2 separate regions of the Homo sapiens genome follow, and region 2 is linked to region 1. The links come from fine-mapping of genetic effects on gene expression. Tissue or cell type: nucleus accumbens. Region 1 holds a variant in brackets; the other region holds the start of a gene. All regions are shown on one strand. Distances are between the middles of the regions.

Region 1 (6,416 bases):
ATGTGCCTTTTCTCATTGTTATTCATTGGTTCAAGGAAGCTGAGATGGGCATCTCAGTTTATTCAATCATTGGTTCTCTACAAGAAGGTTAGGAATCATCTCTGTGTATCAGAACTGATATGTCACAATGTCCATCAGAAGAGATTAGTAGGTTTCTGTCAGGGTATATGCTGCAGGGTAGAATGAAACCTGAAGCTGGGTTAAATAATTGGGTTCTTGTTCAATAAAAGTGCTTGTTTGTGCTGTGTAATGAAAGATCTTTGGTGCATTGGATGTCTGAATCCAAATACCCTTCGGATTTTCTGATGGATAAAGAGATAATGGTGAAAGGGATTTAATTTAGAACTATTGAAAAACTTTAAAAAGATTAGAAAAATTGGTAAATGCACTTTCTTTTTTAAAATCCAGATTCTTTGTTACTTATCAGGAACTCTTATATTTTTTAAGTTGACAATAAAACTGTTTTGTTGGTTTTGTTTTTGTTGCTTTTTTTTCTTTTTTGATCTGTTTGCCATCATTAACTGACCTTTGAGATTCAGGTTATGAAGAAGATAATGGAGAAGGTGTTATCTCCTAGCCCATGTACCTTAACCTGAATTTAGGCAGTGTTATTGCCTTTGGGTCTCATTGGATTGTCACATCTAAGCTGTGGGCAGAGCATTGGTGAATGGAACAAACTGCATGTCTTGCTTCAAGTGATGCTTTTTTCCCCATTAAGTCAATACTCCAGTACATCTAAGCTTCCGTTAAAAAAAATCAACATTTAAACCAGCTTTTTTCTTTAAGAGCACACCAAAAACATTTCTAATCCAGAAAATTGATGTGACAATCAGAATGCTATGCATGTGCAGTGGTGGGTGGAATTTGATGAAATACATTAATATCAGCAGTAAAATCATTCATGTGCAGCGTTGTCTCAGCTAATTTTAAGCAAAGATTATTTGAATCTATTTACTTTATTCAGGATAAAATTATATTAGAAAATGAAAAGTAAAGACTTTTCTTTTCCTTCTCCTCATATTATTAACACCTGATTAAATAAAAGGCTTTATTTGGAAAAAAAAAGTCATGGATTTCACAACTCCAAGGAAACAGTGAAGGGAACCCACAACGTGTACGGGGTATGAAAAACAAGCCATTGACTGAGCAGCATCTGTATTTAAGCTCCTTACACCATGTAGCACTTTCAATGGGTTTTAATCCCTGGTGCAAATCATATACTTCTTTGCCCACTGAGCCTCATTTCATATCTGGCACACCATACTCTATAACCCTTCCTTTACTGAGTAATCTACTTTTCCACACTTCATCTACCTCTGCTTTTCTGGGTTTCTCTCTCCTTCCCTCCCTTTTCTCCTGTGATGTTAGAAAACATACTAAGATCAATTTGGGAGTCAGGAGTCAGAGTTCTAAGAGATAGTTGTCTAGCAAGCCACGTGAAACAGCAGAGCTAGGAAGTAAGCACATGGGGTTGAAGCCTCTAGACTGGGCAATAGAGATATAGAGTGAGACTCTGTCTCAGAAAAACAAAACAAGTTACCCTCAGTTCAAGGTTTCATTTTGTCTTAATTAGACTATTGAAATTATCTTTCAAGATCCTTCTTGCAAATTCCAGTAGACTTCTCGTCTTCTGCTGGCCAGGTATCTTGCTCAGTATTCCTATATTACTCTTTTTTATTTATCCAATCAATTATGAATGTCTTATTTTGGCACTCAAGATTGTCCTTAGTGGCCGGGCATGGTGGCTCATGCCTGTAATCCCAGCACTTTGGGAGGCCGAGGTGGGCAGATCACCTGAGGTCAGGAGTTCAAGACCAGCCTGGTCAACATGGCGAAACCCCATGTCTACTAAAAATACAAAAATTAGCTGGGAATGGTGGCAAGCACCTGTAATCCCAGCTACTTGGGAGGCTGAGACAGGAGAAGTGCTTGAACCCAGGATGTGGAGGTTGCAGTGCCGAAATTGTGCCACTGCCCTCTAGACTGGGCGATAGAGATATAGAGTGAGACTCTGTCTCAGAAAAAGAAGTTACCCTCAGTTCAAGGTTTCATTTTGTCTTAATTAGACTATTGAAATTATTTTTCAAGATCATTCTTGCAAATTCCAGTAGACTTCTCATCTTCTGCTGGCCAGGTATCTTGCTCAGTATTCCTATATTACTCTTTTTTATTTATCCAATCAATTATGAATGTCTTATTTTGGCACTCAAGATTGTCCTTAGTGTCTGGGCATGGTGGCTCATGCCTGTAATCCCAGCACTTTGGGAGGCCGAGGTGGGCAGATCACCTGAGGTCAGGAGTTCAAGACCAGCCTGGTCAAGGTGGCGAAACCCCATTTTACTAAAAGTAAAAAATTAGCCCAGCATGGTGGTGTGCACCTGTAATCCTACCTACTTGGGAGGCTGAGGCAGGAGAATCACTTGAACCAGGGAGGTGGAGGTTGCAGTGAGCCGAGATCACGCCACTGCACTCCAGCCTGGACAGCAATAGCAAGACTCCTTCTCTCCTTCTCAAAAAAAAAAAAAAAAAAAAAAAAAAAAATTATTCTCCTTAGCTAGACCCAATATTTGAGTATTTAATTTTCTTTCTTGACCTTTACATGCTTCAATCTCTAGTCTCTAATTAAATTATATACATTAATAGAGTATTCAAGGCCTCACCCATGACGTTCAGTCAACATGGATTGCTTTTGTGATTAACAGATTTGCTACAGTTCTACTCATTTATCAAGACTTAGTTTAAATGACATTTCATCCATATTTTTTTTTCTCATTTATACTCTTCCCATTGTTCCCTACTCATTACCAACTACCAACATAGAGACACCATCATAATTAATTGCTAGTTTTTTCTGTGTTTGTTCCTGTGTCACTGAAAATGCACAGCACCTTATAACATATTTATTCAAATGTGTAACCACCCAATGGGTTCACCTTGCCCACTGCCTAGACAGAGCCAATTTATCAAGACAGGGAGATTGCAATAGAGAGAGAGTAATTCACACAGAGCTGGCTGTGCGGGAGACTGGAGTTTTATCATTACGCAAATCAGTCTCCAGAGCATTTGGGGATCAGAGTTTTTAAGGATAATTTAGTGGGTAGGAACTTGGTTGGAGATGGAATCCTAGTAGTGTCAAAGTGAGTTTTTCTTGCTGTTTTCTGTTCCTGGGTGGGATCACAGAACTTGTTGAGCCAGATTAGCCATCTGGTGGTGTCAGCTGGTGCACTGGAATGCAGCGTCTGCAAAATATCTCAAGCAGTGATCTTAGATATGACAACAGTGATGTTACTCCCAAGAGTAATTTGGAGAGACTCAGACTCTTGCAGCCAGTGGCTGCATGGCCCCTAAACTGTAATTTCTAATCTTGTAGCTAAATTGTTAGTCCTACAAAGGCACATTGGCCCCCATTCAAGAAGAGTTCTATTTTTTTTTTTTTTTCTTTCGGGAAAGGGCTATGATCAGTTTTGTTTCAGAGTCAAACCATAAACTAAATTCCTTCCCAAGGTTAGTTTGGCCTACACCCAGGAATGAATAAGGACAGCTTAAAGTTTAGAAGCAAGATGGAGTTGGTTAGGTCTGATCTCTTTCACTGTCATAATTTTCTCAATTCTAATTTTTGAAAATGCGGTTTCAGATGC[G/A]TATCTGTCATGAACCATGTTATAGGAACAGTCTCTTTTAGCTCCTGATGTGCTCACTACTCTAAATAACTGTAGATTTATTAAACCCTTTAAATACTTATTGTAGAGAATACAGATAAATAAAGTGTTTTTCTTACATTTATTTTTTAAAGGGCCTTGTTAGATTATTGGAAAAAAACATTTTATTAAGAATGTATTCAATGCCTTCTATAGATGAACTTACATTCTGTCATGAAAAAAAACAACATCTATTTTCAAAGGCAGAACATTTTCAGTTTTTTGTTAATAATGAGAAATACTTTAACTTCCTATTTTTTAGTCAGAAGTGGAACAGTATTATTTATCATGCATTGATTTGTTGTCTCTGAACTTACAAATGTGGTTTGGCTACTTACAGTCAGTGTAAGATGTTATATATCTTCAGCGTTGCTGATGAGGCCGATTAGAATAACACTGTTGGGAACTCTTAGGTGGCAAAAGGGACATTTCATAGAGGTAATCATGGACATAAAAGAAGGATGATATGGAAAGATATAACATGGCTTTAAATGTACACTTTCTTCCAGCCCAGCTGAGGTCATACCATTCTGTACAGAAATCTATATAGAATCAAGTTCCAAAATTCTTACTCTGTGATGACGATTATACTTTGAAATGGTTTCTATTTATAACAGGAATCAACATCTGATCTAATGAATCCTAAATATGCTAGAACGATTTAAACATTTGGAAGCTGAAAAACTGAGGAGTATGAAAGACATGTAATCACTCTTTTCAGCTTTAGTTTGTATATAATGTAGTTAATGCTTATTATGAGTTTATTATAAATAATAATTTTCTTGTGTTATAAGTAAAGGAATACACAACTGATTATTTCTTTAGAATATAAAGTTAAAATAATTAACAAAATTGTCTTAGTACATTTATTCTGTATACAATTCAGAACAGCACAGAATCCACTGGTATGGAATGAAGATGTTTTATGATCCATATCATATTGCTGCAAAATAATTATTTAATGCTATCTAATCTTCAATCAAAATCACATTTGTTATTAATTTTTATTTATTGAAATATCTTTAATAGATTTTATATTATTATAAAATCATTAATAAAATAATTAATATTAATATTACTGATAAGTAATTGTCGAGGTAATGCAATTAAAACACTTAGCAAGCTGTGTTACACAAAGTAAGCTCTCAATAAATGTTTCTCATTGCTATTACCATTATTTATTTTAATGGCTGAATGCTATAGCATATAATTTATTTAACAGATCCCCTGTTAAAGGAAATTGCTCCTAAAATTCAAATTAATTTTTAATTAAGTTTTCCCAATTAAATTTCTGGATTTAATTGGGCTTATTGATTCAGGTTTTTTGGTGAATGAATATCATGTTCTATATTTTTCACATGATTTCTAGAAATCAGTACATACTATATACAAAAACTATTCTGAAACCAATTCTATTTTTGATGATTCAGTAATCACTCTAGTGTCTCATTTAGATTTTTTTGTTTGTTTGTTTGTTTTAGATGAAGTCTCACTCTGTCACCCAGGCTGGAGTGCAGTGGCGCCATCTTAGCTCACTGCAACCTTCGCCTCCTGAGTTCAAGCAATTCTCCTGCCTCAGCCTCCCAAATAGCTGGAATTATAGGCATGGGCCACCACGCCTGGCCAACTTTTGTATTTTTATTGGAAACGGGGTTTCACCATGTGGATCGGGCTGGTCTCAAATTCCCGACCTCAGGTGATCCACCCGCTTTGGCCTCCCAAAATGCTGGGATTACAGGTGTGAGCCACTGCGCCCAGCTAGGGTTCTAATTTTGACCTCTAGTTTCCATTGTGCTATTGATGTATGCAATCATTAATAATGTATTCTTACTGCCATAAACAATAATATAAAATGAATGTAAATAAGGAATAATTTGAAAATAATTTTTCTTAGCTGATGAAAATAGCTTTTTACAGGTGTTCCCTCAGAAATCCCAATTTTCTTAACTAGCAGATTCTATTGTTAATGTTTATATAGGTGTCACTGATACTTCCTTCACTTATTATATTTATCTCTCCCTCTGCTTCCAAGATGGTGCCTTGTTGCTGCCTTCTCGCATGGTGGAAGGCAGACACACAAAAAGGCATGATGATGTTCCCTTCAAACTCTTTTACATTTATTAGGGAGAAACCTAATGACCTCATCACTTCCCCAAAGACCCCCCCGCCCCCGCTTTAGTACTATACCATTGGGTATTAGGTTCCAACATATTAATTTTAGAAGGATGTTCTAAAATTCATTCAAATTTATTTTACTTCATTTAGTATATATTGACAAATCATCCTTAATAACTTAAAGACATATACCATTTGCTATGATAGGTGATCTATAAAATACTTATTTTAATTCATCTATTTATCTAATTATAAATATTTGCATCAAAATATGAGTTATTTTGAGAATTTGAGAATTTGAGAATTCAAATATCATGACAGAGTAAGTATATTTGATGGGATCATAGTTCTTACACTTAAGGAATAGGAAAAAATAAAATTAATGTTAATATACATAACAGTTCTTTCTCTTCTTTCTTGGAGATTTCTGTGAGTCAATAAACTTCTATTGTTGCTAATCAATTAAATTGCAATGAAAATATATTCATTTATTTTTCCAAGTGAGGAAGTTTTTCTTTATGGCAATCAATGCAATATTTTCTAGCTTTTGAAAGGTTTTTAGTCTTTTAAACTTTCCATGAACAATGTTATTGGTAGTTTATTGTC
Region 2 (6,416 bases), 470 kb before region 1:
CAAACTCATGTTGAAATTTGATCCCCAGTGGGGTGATGTTGAAAGGTGAGGCCTAAGGGGAGAGGTGTGGGTTCTGGGATTGGATCTTTTATCAGTGACTTGGTGATGTTCTCTCTGTAGTGAATGAGTCTTGCTCTCATGAGGCTGGATTCGTTCTCATAGGAATAGAGTAGTTCCTGAGAGACTGGGTTTTTAGAAAGCCAGGACGTCCCTCAGGTTTGCCTCCATTGGCATGTGTCTATGTCCCCTTTGACCTTCTTCACCATATTGCGAGGCAGTGCAAAAACCCTCACTGGAAGCCAGGGTCATGCCCTTGAACTTCTCAGCCTTCAGAACCTTGAGTTAAATAAACCTCTTTCTTTATAAATTACCCAGTCTCAGATGTTCTTTTATAGCAAGACAAAATAGACGAAGACAATGTGTGAATCCATTTCTCAATTCATAAGTGAATTGAGGTTATAATAATAATATACTCCTCATAAAGCTGTTGTGAAGATCACATGAGTTCATACATTATAAAAACTTAAAGGAGGATAGGGCATAGGGTAAACACACCCATGGGCAAATGTTAGCTATTAAAATACAACACTTATTATCACAGACTGAAGTGAGAGAAAGCTATACAGCATAGCTTATTATTCTAGTTAGATCCTGAGAGGTAATAAGTGTAACAAAAACAAGAAGCTATTTAAATCTGTTGAGCTTGTGATATGTCCCTGGCTCAACAACAAATTGGCTTTCTAATAATCCCAATGGAATGTCAATGAAAATTAAATTGTTAGAACCATTTTAAATAAATAAATTGAAAGTTTGAAAATCTGGAATATGTAGAAATTTAATATGCCCTTAATATTTCCTATTCTTAATTTAGAAAAATACGTATCGCCAAACCGTGGAGTTTCACACGTGATATTAGGACTGTGGACAAGGAATTATATACTAAATGCTAAAGAACAGTGTTTTTTAATGTACATTAAGAATGTTTTGGTTACTAACAGAAAAGCATATCAAAGTGACTTAAAAAGTGATGTAACACATTGGTGCGCATAACTAGAAGTTGAGTTCCTGTTGGCTCTAAAGTTGTTTAATCCAAACCTACATTGATTTCTTCAAATATCTAGTTTCTTTCTTTGTCTCCAATTTGTCATATTCATCTTAAAACTGGACCCTAACTCATTGATTCATCACTGAACAATTTTTCCTCCATTCCGTTTCACTGGGCCAGTGTAAGAAACTATGCTGTTCTTGAGCCAGTGACTATCAGCAAGTGAACATCATGCCCGAATTGGTTCAGGTCTGGGTTTATTAACCAATTACTTCCAAGTATGATGCTGTTACCATGATAGGCTTAGACTCAACAGGGTCTGCTGCCCAACATGAAATCATTTCCCTAAATTACACGGTACTTCGCAATGGAATAAAGGTGAAACGGATGCTGTGATATCACTTACGATATCCATCAATCTTACTATGGCAGACACTATTATTTCCCCCATATTCCCTTGTTTTCTTCTTTTTAAGTAAAAGGCTCTTCAGGTTTTTAGCCATATACATGGCCATTTCACATAGACACTCTATTTTCCAGTCTTCCAGTCTCATTTGCAGTAAGCTCTGGCCATATGGTTAATTTCTAGTCAAAAACATGTCATGTTCAACTTCCAAGGTATGTCCTTAAATAGGGAACATATTGTCCTCATTCTTCTCAGCTCCTGAAGTTTGAATACCAATTTAGTGGCTAAAGCTTGAGATACTATCTTGGAGTGTGTTGCTAATGGTGGAGCAACAAGGAGCCTAGTTCCTGATATCATGGAGCTCATATCTAGCCCTGGAACACTTAGCTGCAGACTTCATTTTCATCAGGGATAGAAATAAAGTTATATTTTAGTCTAGCAACTATTTACTTCAGGTGTTTTGGCATTCATGGAAAAGTCTCATCCTAACTTATACTTAATTATTTTACCAAATACTGTTGCCTACATTATATGATTGTGCTTTAAAAGTCTCATCGTTACAGTATACATTGATTAGGACCAGTATTTGAGAGTGTGCATCTCAAAGTTCTGTATCCATAGTTTAGTAACCACCTGTAGTTTTGTTAGCATGAAAACAACTTCTGACTCTCTTTATGCAAATACCTGTAGGCCATTATCTGCTAAATCTTTCTTAAATATGTGGTATATATTAGCCTACGTTTATTTGTCTATTAATACTTGCAAAAGCCACAGCAAAACATGATGTATATAAGTAGGATGATTTTTTGTTATCAAAACTGAATGATAGCTATAGGAAACCAGTGAGTACCATTAATTCACTCTGTTCAATTCTTTGCACTTACCTTCTTTCAGACTCGTTCATCAGTTTCACTTTAGTTTATCTCAGTTTCTATTTTTGGCACCTGTGAGATATGGATGCTTTTTGTTTGTTTGCTCACCTCTCCCCAACCCTCCCTACTCAGTCCCTCAGGAATACTGAGACTAGAGAAATTCATCTTCCCCTACCATGAAAACATTTTTCTGGGGCCTAACATACCTGATCTTTATCTTCCAAAGTTAGAAAATTCAGTTACTTTGGCGACAGCTTGGGAATGAGGTAGGTTCTCCAAGTTTAGCAGAGTAGAAAACTATCTAAAATAGTTTTGTTCAGGGTGTCCAGACATTTAATAAAACATTTTTTACCCACAGAAAATGTGGTCCCTTAGAGGAGAAGCAAGGTCCTGAGCCAAACTTTATAATGTACGTTCCTAGGAGGGAAAGCGAGGGAAATTCAGTCCACCGCTCTGCCTGCCTGCCTGCCTGCCTGCCTGCCTGAGGAGTTGCAGTGCAGAGTATCATTGCAGCGCTTTTCCAGGGAGTAACGTGCTGCACTGGTTCAGGGCTTTGTCTTTATTCACAACACATTCATGTGCCTCAGCATGGGGGCAGCTGCACTGTTGCCTGCCAGCCTGTCCTCTTTGACTGCCGAATGAACCAAAGGATAACTCTCCATTCGTGAGAGAGAGTGAGCTACAGAGGAAGAAAGACCACGCAAAAGGGAGGGGGAGAGAGGGGGGCGAAGAGGATGTTCTCCGGCTCACTCCTACATTAGGTCTCTGTGCAAAGGCAGAGGCTGTGGGAGCAGCATCAAGCAAGACTTCGGGCAGTGATTCTAACTATTGCCTATGAACACCGTGGCTGGGACGACTTTGACGAGGCAATTTATTACTTACGCATAGAACACTGGCTGTGCTGAAACTGGGAGCGCAAACAGCCCCTTGTTTTCTAATTTAGAGACTTGCATCTTTTCGACACTCAACAGTATCAAGACACTCTGCTACTACAGGTAAGACGCAGTTAAGATTTGTCTATTTGTGACATCATTACACTTTAACACACTTTAAACTATGAATACTTTTTTTATATTGTGCCTGGTCTATGTTGAACTGCCTTTTTCCCTTCATATTAGCCTCTCTTCAAGTAAATAATTTCACTAAGAAAAAACTGCTGTTAAATGAAGGAACCACTACTAAATCTTTGCTAAGAGGAATCTACATAATTGTATTTCCATGAGCTCTGAGTTCACAGTTGGGAACTTGAACTTAAACTGGGATCTGGGATGCATTTCATAATATATATATATATTTTTTTTTTCTAAATGTACTGAATTATTCACTATCATTTGGATAAGCCAAAATTATTCTCTTGCTACAGTGCTGTGCTGTGTATATGTTTAGTGGCTTTTTTTTTTTTTTTAAACCTCATAGTTTGGGGAAACTAATGATGAGGCACATAACTTGTGGAGTTTGATCACATCATTACCATGTGGTGTAATCTACTCAGTCAGAAAGATGTGCTGTTCTAGCCTTTACTGAGAAGGTGTTATCTTGTGTACATACATATATCATCAATAGGTAGCATGAACATGTGAAATATTTGTAAGACTAAGAGAAAATGCAAGGATGGTGATAATTCACATGCTGTATGATATCATTGAGTCTCGAGTTTGCTTTACATAAAAATTACAAAATTACCTTTGTTTTTATAACTGGTCTCCATCTTCACTTGTCAGTTTTTACAAAATAAAATTAGCTTTCAGGTGAGGTCACTCGGAGTTGTTGATATAGCTGGGAAAACTGTAATCACAGAAACATATTAATAATGTGTTGAATGTCTATAGAGATATAGGAGTAATATTATCAAGAGGCTTGTACAATTTTCCTCTGCTCTGTTTTGATAAGAGCATCTCATAGTATTAGTCACTTGTAACTTGGATTGATTCTGCTGTCCCATTCAGGGTCCCAATGACTTGGAAGTAAAATTACATTGTTGTCTGTGATCAAAGCTAAAAGCTAGGAAGATTTAATAATAAAGTCTTCTTTCCTTGACATTTTTGCTTAAATTTACCCGATCTAATATATATATTTTTCTATCCATGTGTGTCTGAGGTGTTCTTTCTATTAACCGTATTTTATATAAGAGCTGCTCCTATTTGAATTCCTACACCTGAACTATTTAATTGCTGATAATTGGGCATCATTAGATTGACCCTTGGATAGCTAATGGCTTTAACTTTGACATACAATAAAATATGTAGCATAAGATTAAAGCAGCTCCTAGCAGAGCACATGTTTAACAGTGAAGTATTGTGAAAATAGAACCATTTGCATTTAAAAATACATAATTCATTGGAAGACTTGTGATTCTTGTTCTTGTGCATGACTTATTTCATTTCCAATTTCACTTACAAAAGGTTTAAGTCCTTGGGGAATGTATGTAAAATATTCATTTGACTGAGGGTGTGAAAATTAAAGGAGGAATGAATTATTACTACAGTGACTTTTTTTTAGGAGTTTTTGAAAGTTAGTAACTGGCATGAATGTAAAAAATTAATTTGAGAGTCTCTCCTAGGGTACACCAAAAAAAAGCAAGAAAATGTTGATGTGAAATATATGTCAATATGCGAAATTACTCAGAAGATGAAAGGGAATGAAAATAGAAAAGAGAAGTTTTACAGTCTGTAAAAGGAAGAATATTTTCAGTAAACATAAACTCTATACTCTTTCTTTTATGACTGATAAGGAAACAAGGTATCAAGAATAGTATTTATCCAACATGAATGAAATCCCAGTGGCCACATATGAGGTGCAAAAATAAATGTTCTTTTTACTTAGTTAATAAATTTGAATATACAATTACTGAAATTGTATCTTGCATGAAATATTTATTGAAGTTATAAAGTTAGAAAAGTCACTGACAAACTATTTCAAAGTTTATTAATATTCATATTCTTTATTCATATGATTTATATGTTTTCCTTTCTTCCTAAGGAATGCGTATACTCAACACAATAGTATATGTGCTTTGTTTTGAAACTTTTCAACATTAGTTTTAAAATTACTTACTAAAAATCGTTCAGACCAGTCATCTCATTTCTCCAAAAAGAGACATATTCTAGATTTTCTTCTTGGATATACTACAAAAGCACTAACTTTATATTTATACACATTAAAGCAATATGCATTGTTTAATGATTTATAACATTCAGTATTATGTTTGTTTCTCCAAACTTTCTAGTTTTTCCAACTGTTAGAACTTTACAAATGTCTTATAAGAGTAAATTCATTATTACTATGATTTTCAGGGTCTTGGAGTTGTAAACTGTTTTAGACAGAACCTTTTAAAAATTATTGGAGTAGTCATCTCATTAATAACACTTTTAAGTATTTTTTCAACAATTACCTGATATATTTTGGCAAGAATATGTCCCTCCTCTCAATTTCTTTAGAATTTCAACTTTTCTACTAGAGAAAGTTTGGAAAACTTTTCTTTCAATGTCACTTTATGTTTGAACTAGATCAGAAGTTGTAAACTTATCTGGATCTTTAGTAATGTCAGATTAGATAATATAGTTATTGTAATACTCTTTTTGACATGGGGGAGTTTTCATGTGATGCAGAACGTATTAGCTAAGGTGGAATTTGGTTAAGTTAGTTTTGAGGCTTTGGATGATGTAACAAAAGTTAAAAACAAAATATTTCATTTCCTTGCTATCTGAGGGGATATAAACTCTGTCCTCTGCAAGCATACTGCATCAATTATTTATAATTTGTTGAAATAGATTTTGTTTTCATTGATGTGGTATTGGTCTACTGAAATGTTTCTTCTTGATTTTCAACAGGAATTTTATTTTTATATTTCTGGGGGTATTACGTGAGTCTTTCACTGGAATCACGAACAGTTCCTTTGAAAGTCTCAACAATGTAAAAAAAAGACTGTAATCTCCAGTCCTTTTTCATGATGATATTAATATTGAAGCATGAATAGAAATAGCTACAACTAAAAATTCTGAAATAACAAGCAAGAATAAGTAATGAGAGACCTCCAGCTAGTTTTCTGGCTCAGTTACTTCACTTAAATATCTTCTTAGACTGTGGTGTGGAT

The links. PIP is the estimated chance that this variant, and not a neighbour inherited with it, causes the effect.
Region 2: it holds the start of LINC03000, and the variant in region 1 is the best candidate, but not a certain one, in a credible set for the expression of LINC03000 in nucleus accumbens (GTEx, PIP 0.71).

The regions. Positions count from the first base shown.
Region 1 is chr5:164,760,185-164,766,600 of GRCh38, forward strand. All of the region lies in intron 3 of LINC03000 (long intergenic non-protein coding RNA 3000), which reads left to right. Among named protein-coding and RNA genes, the nearest start is that of LINC02143, 300 kb to the left of the region's middle. The variant G/A (reference allele first, on the strand shown) is at 3,639.
Region 2 is chr5:164,293,879-164,300,294 of GRCh38, forward strand. LINC03000 (long intergenic non-protein coding RNA 3000) reads left to right here and starts at 2,827. Exons shown (of 5, transcript XR_001742489.2): 1 at 2,827-3,318.